Linked DNA regions of Homo sapiens: region 2 is linked to region 1. Evidence: fine-mapped expression QTL. A gene starts in region 1. The other region holds a variant in brackets. All regions are shown on one strand. Distances are from middle to middle.

The links. PIP is the estimated chance that this variant, and not a neighbour inherited with it, causes the effect.
Region 2: its variant is fine-mapped to the expression of PLOD2 in spinal cord (GTEx, PIP 0.95).

What each region holds. Positions count from the first base shown.
Region 1 is chr3:146,159,683-146,162,597 of GRCh38, reverse strand. It overlaps PLOD2 (procollagen-lysine,2-oxoglutarate 5-dioxygenase 2), which reads left to right and starts at 1,414. Exons shown (of 20, transcript NM_182943.3): 1 at 1,414-1,717. The coding sequence starts at 1,609.
Region 2 is chr3:146,079,245-146,082,159 of GRCh38, reverse strand. PLOD2 (procollagen-lysine,2-oxoglutarate 5-dioxygenase 2) reads left to right here. Exons shown (of 20, transcript NM_182943.3): 12 at 297-422; 13 at 2,903-2,915. Among named protein-coding and RNA genes, the nearest start is that of LNCSRLR, 12 kb to the right of the region's middle. The variant A/T (reference allele first, on the strand shown) is at 1,348.

The sequences.
Region 1 (2,915 bases):
ATCTTTTAGCTTTTTTTTTCCCCTTCAGACTAAATAAACCTTATTTCATTCTTCTCACAGGTCATAGTTTCCACTTCTTTAATTATTTGTTACTCTTCTCAGAACTTTCTCCAGTTTTCCTCTTCTTTTAAAAAACTGAGACCAAACCTTCAAAACAGAGTAATAACTGGCTTAGTTCTGGGCACAGGAAATGATTCTTTCTAAAATGTCACATCCCAGGCAAGATTTCTTTGCAGGGTTTTCCACCTGTTTTTAATGCTATCAAGATGAAAGCATTAAGTTCATGTTATCTTGATATGTTAATTTTAGACAAAACGTGATCATAATGGAACACATTTTTCCATAATTTTCTGTCTTAATTTCAAAGGCCCAGAGTTATAACGGGTGTTGTCTCGATTCTGTTTTTTTCTAATTTCACGAAAATTTAGGCAGGAGATTCCAGAATGGTAGCAGTTTGGTTCTCTTTCTCCTATAAAATAGCTTATGTCATTAAATGTATGAGGCAAAACTGTCAAGCTTTTTTCTTAATTGTGCTTTTGCTCCCACTCATTCCAACAAGTTAAACCCTTGGCTAGTTAAAATGTGAGAACAGAAAAAAGGGAATTTTCTTAGACATCAGTCAAAAGTGGAAGCAGTGGGGGCCAAGGCTCAGAGATCTCGACCTCTCCGACCACGTCTTTGGGAGTAATTTTCCATGCGGACTGGAGCACGATCTTGTAAGCACAGCCCCGGCATTACACACGTTGGGCTCCGATTCCGCAGGATTTACAAGCCTCATTACTGGAAAGAGTCTAAGGCTCTCTTGGCACAAGCGGCGGAGCAAGAAATGTTCACTGGACAATAAAACTTTCGGTTTACGGAGTAAAATAAAATCACGGCCTTCCTTTTACAGGGTGATGAACCTGCCCCTGAATTAATGAGGGGCGATCCATTTCCATGGCTTAAGAGTCTGGCGAGGTCCCAGTCAGCCAAGATTGCCGCAGATTTGCAGTCACTTCAGACTGGGTGGAGTATCCAAGTCCATAGAAGAGCAAATTCTCACCCTTCGAGGCTGCTGTGGAAGCTACCGGGGCTGGGACAGCAGAGAGGAACCCAGACGGGAACACCGCCCTCCCGCCAGACTCCCGGCGGCTCCTCCTCCCTCTCCCAAACCCACTCCCAAAGCTAAGTGCAGGCTTCCCCGTTCCAGCCAGAAGCGCTGCGTGAGCCTCCACACGTAGCCGCAGGCAGCTCCTTAAATAGCGTCCGCGCTGAGCAAACAGTCCAGACGTGGGGCCCAGGAGGGCGAGCTGAGGCGACCGCACCGGGCGCGCAGCGGCGGCGGGTCAGCCGGCGGCCAATAGCCAGGGCGCGGCCCGCCCCGTCGCCTCCCCTCGGGGAGCCTATAAGGCCTCCGCAGCGCCCCGGGCGCCTGCTGCTCCGTGCCTCCACCGACGACCTCACTCAGCTGCGTTACGCGCCGCTCCGGCTGCCGGCCGCGCGCCTTGCCCGCCGGCTCCCGCCCGCAATCGGCGGCTCAGGGCGGACCCGGGTCTCTGCGTTCTCGCGAGAAGCGCGGCGCTGCGGGGCCGTGGGCGCCTGAGCCCGCGCGGCCCTCGAGGGCCGAATATGGGGGGATGCACGGTGAAGCCTCAGCTGCTGCTCCTGGCGCTCGTCCTCCACCCCTGGAATCCCTGTCTGGGTGCGGACTCGGAGAAGCCCTCGAGCATCCCCACAGGTGAGCACCCCGCGGTCCGCCGCTGTCCCGCGAGGCTCGGCCGGCGGGGGGGCAGTTCATTCATCCACCAGCCCTTCCGCGGGGCTGGCCAGGTGAGTAGTGGGGGCCTGTCCCTCCTCTCCAGGACCGCCGGGGTCTTCCCCAGAATTGCGGTCGGGCGGCGCTGGTCCCTGGGGAAGTGTAGGGGCACCCGCCCTCGTTGACTCCTTGGAGTTCTCGGTGAACTCAGCGTGCCCGAATTTCCCTGCAGAACAAGTTGGAGTTTCCTTTTGGACTTGCAGGTCATGGGCACCAACACCTTTCCTGCAGCTCTCCTTTCCCCTCCTTTCCGAGAGTTGGCATGGATTTATCCTTGATGGACGAGGCAGTACTCCTTCTGTGACCTAAACACGGGGCTTAGTGTACTTTCTAATTGATGGTGACACATTCCTTCCAGCACCCCAGGAAGCAGCCGGTAACACCTCCCTCTTGCCAAAAACAACGCTCGCTCGAAAACCTTAGTTGTTTTCAGTAAGGCTGCCTGGCTACCCAGTACCTCCAGGCGGCAGCTTTCTTCCTTTGGGATCTGAAGGGGAAGCTGTGGACACACAGCTGCTCCCCTTACCTACCCTTTTCTTGAGCCCGGTGCTGTCTCTCGTTTTCAGAAGCTGTGTAAAACAAAACGTTTTATATTTAGCCAGATTAAAGAGAGTTTCACCACGTCTGTCTAAACATGCTTTGCTGCCTTTTGTGGCACATGAAAAATCCTTGGAGTTTTCCACATTTGTGCTCTTTGTGCTCAACTCTCTGAAATTAGATCTTGCATTTAAATGACCTTCTAATGTCCTTTTTGTTTTGTTTTGTTTTTTGTTAAGTCATCTTGGCACCATTTTTTCCCCCAAGTTTATAATAGAGTGCTTTTCTACTTGAACTTTTCTTAAGCCTAAGGACAGAAATTTCTATTTCAGAGTTACATTCAGAAAGTGACATTTGGTTTGCAGTCCAGCTAATCCATGTAGCGATAGTTTTGTCTTCATCTTTAAGTGTTTCAGAAAGCGTCAGCAGGCTGAACTGCCTATCTTTCTACAAAACAGTGCTTGCTTTGTTAGCTTGAGAAACTTCAGCATTCAGATGGATTTCTATCAGTTACAGGATGCTTTTCTTTCTGTTAGGTATATGTGACCATTTAAAAATGGATTTCTGAACCCGTGTGATTCCT
Region 2 (2,915 bases), 80 kb after region 1:
GATGTAAGCAAGGCATTTTTAAAAGTCATTTTTATGTATTCATTAGCATTTTCAATTACTTTTTCCTTCTTTGTTACTCTTTTTAAGAAATATGATTGAAAATTAGCAATATACTTACTTAAGAAAAGATGTTGGGAAAGAAGATCCTTATTTTATTTTTATTAACTACAGGTTTGTTGAATGAGCTTTCTTGTGTTATATGTCATACTAAGCCCAAAATACATAATTCTGTGGTAATTTAAAAATAAATAATTATATAGGTTTCTCTCTCTCACACACACTCTCTCTGTCTTTAGAAAGATCATTGCTCCTCTTGTAACTCGTCATGGAAAGCTGTGGTCCAATTTCTGGGGAGCATTGAGTCCTGATGGATACTATGCACGATCTGAAGATTATGTGGATATTGTTCAAGGGAATAGAGTGTAAGTTACTTGGTTTAATATTTTAATGTGAAATACCATAATCTAAAGATGTAGTCTTGTTAGTATTACTTGAAATTTTTTTTGCATTCATCTCTTTTCTTTATAGTTAATGGGAATTTGAGAACCCAAGACCACTTGGAATCCTGAAATACTAGTATAAAACTAATATCTTAAAAAAATGTTTTTAAAGTCCCAAATCTTCAAAGGAACAAGCTCATTGCTGTGGGGAATACTAAGAGATAATATATGTTTACCATACTCACATTATGGTTGATAGAAGAGTAATACTCTTTATTTAAAAGCTTGGAAAGGGGATTTAGTTTACTAACTTTTTAATGGTTATAATTAAGGGTTGTTTTGATAGGTTTTAAAATTTATAATTAAGCCAACAGTAACACTAACAGCCAGAACATTCCAGTATTCCTGATTGCATGAGTTTTTTTGTGTGAAATAGCTATTATTCTGCTTTAAATACAAGTTTTTTTTACCAATATTAGATTTTCACTTCTAGAGATTGAAAAGAATATATTTGCTGAAAAGTGTGTGCATGATTTATATTTATTTCAGAGACAATGGTTGATTACTAAAAATAATCACAATTGAAATAGTTTTGCTAAGGTAATATTGGAGAAGAATGTCATTCTTTTTTTCATACATATGATGGACCAGAGTGACTAAGACATTACATGCTTTGCCTTAGTTCTCAAACATGTCAGCCTGATTAAAAAGGGGCAGTATACTCTCAGGACTAAAAGGATGTGCCCTTACATTTAGAAAAAAAAAGGCACACGTTTCTGTTCAAACAGTTGAGTGGTAAAAAGATGTGTTGCTTGTGGAAATAGTAATTGGTGTGGAAAGCTTCAATCTGAATGATGTAAATACAATAAAGGTTTTTGTTAGCTGCAATTAAAATGCACAGTGGAGG[A/T]GAAAAGACTATTAAGATCGTATTCTGTTGTTTCTGTGCAGTTGTATTGACTCTGGGTGAGTTGTATAGACAATATACCTGATTGTATCTTTGGGCACATCACAAATGAGGGTTTGTGAAAGTAGAATGGAAAATTTGTTTCAAGTTGCTTTAGGCATTGGTGATTTTCTGTCCAACCTCCTGTCATTCTTGTCTAAAGTATAAGGAAAAAAATATGGCAGAAGCTTTTGATCTGGAATACACTTCATGTCCAAAAGCTACACGAAGGAGCAACTGTGTGTGTGTGTGTATGTGTGTGTGTATAAGTTGAAACACTGAATAATTCCCCAGAGATTAATTTCTGAATTTAGCTGACACGTTGTATACAGTAATTCCCCTTTATCTATGGTTTTGCTTTCCATGGTTTCAAGTCTACTGTGGATTGAAAATACGAAGATATGTTGAGATAGAGAAAGTGTAAACATTCATGTAACTTTTATTACAGCATATTGTTATAGTTGTTCTATTATTGTTGTTAGTCTTACTGTACTTTATGTATAAATTAAACTTTATTATAAGTATATATGTGTAGGAAAAAACGTAGTGTATGTGTAGCGTTTGTTACTATCTGCTTTCAAGCATCCACTGGGGTCATGGAATGTATCACCCTCACATAAGGCGGGGACTGCTGTACTCCTTAAGGCATTTTTCTTTGAGGCTAGTCTAGTAAGACATAATATCATATTTCCGTTAATATCTAACTGCATTTCTTGGTCAAGATCTTGCCTTGATGTTCTCTAAAAGAAAGGCGCACAGTCTTAGGGGCAAAACTTGTTTTGCAGTTTTTATGAAATCAGTCATGTTCAGAGTGAGAATATAGATGTGGGAAAGGATGCAACGTTCATGTGCTCCCAGCTGTATTTCTTCATGTTTTCCTTTTTCTATAAAATATTTAAGATGGCTTAATGAATGGTAAGAGAATATAATTTTGGAGAATTTTAGGCTATATTCAGTGGTATTTTGGTAAATGTGTAACAACTGGCTTTTGGAGGTGGAGGATTCCCTGATTTAAAGTGCTTGCCCATTTGTTTGGTGTAAATACTTCTACCATGGCTGATTTCAAGTTTCCAATGTGAAATTACTGAACATGGACTTGGCAGAAAAAGTTAACTTTGGGGAGCCAGTATGAGCTGGGTCTAGTGCACCACTGGTTGTATGTTATGATTCATGCTATCAAATTCTTTAATTTTAAATAGAAACACCGTCTATACAATAGATTATAATAGTCTAATTGTAACAACTGATTGAGATATGATAGCTATAATACAAATGCCAAACAGATACCAACCCAAAATTGAAATGTATCCAAAGGGGCAGTGGTTTATCTCCTAAATCTCATTAAATATAGTGTATACAATGTAATCTTATATATATATCATTGAATATATTTGTATGTTGATTCAATAATTTATGTATACAAAATCTAAACACAAAGCATTTATTTTAAAAAGGTAAAAATGAAACTTAAAATTGTTTGTATTTGTGGTATATAAGAATGTCTTCTCTTTACTTTCAGAGGAGTATGGAAT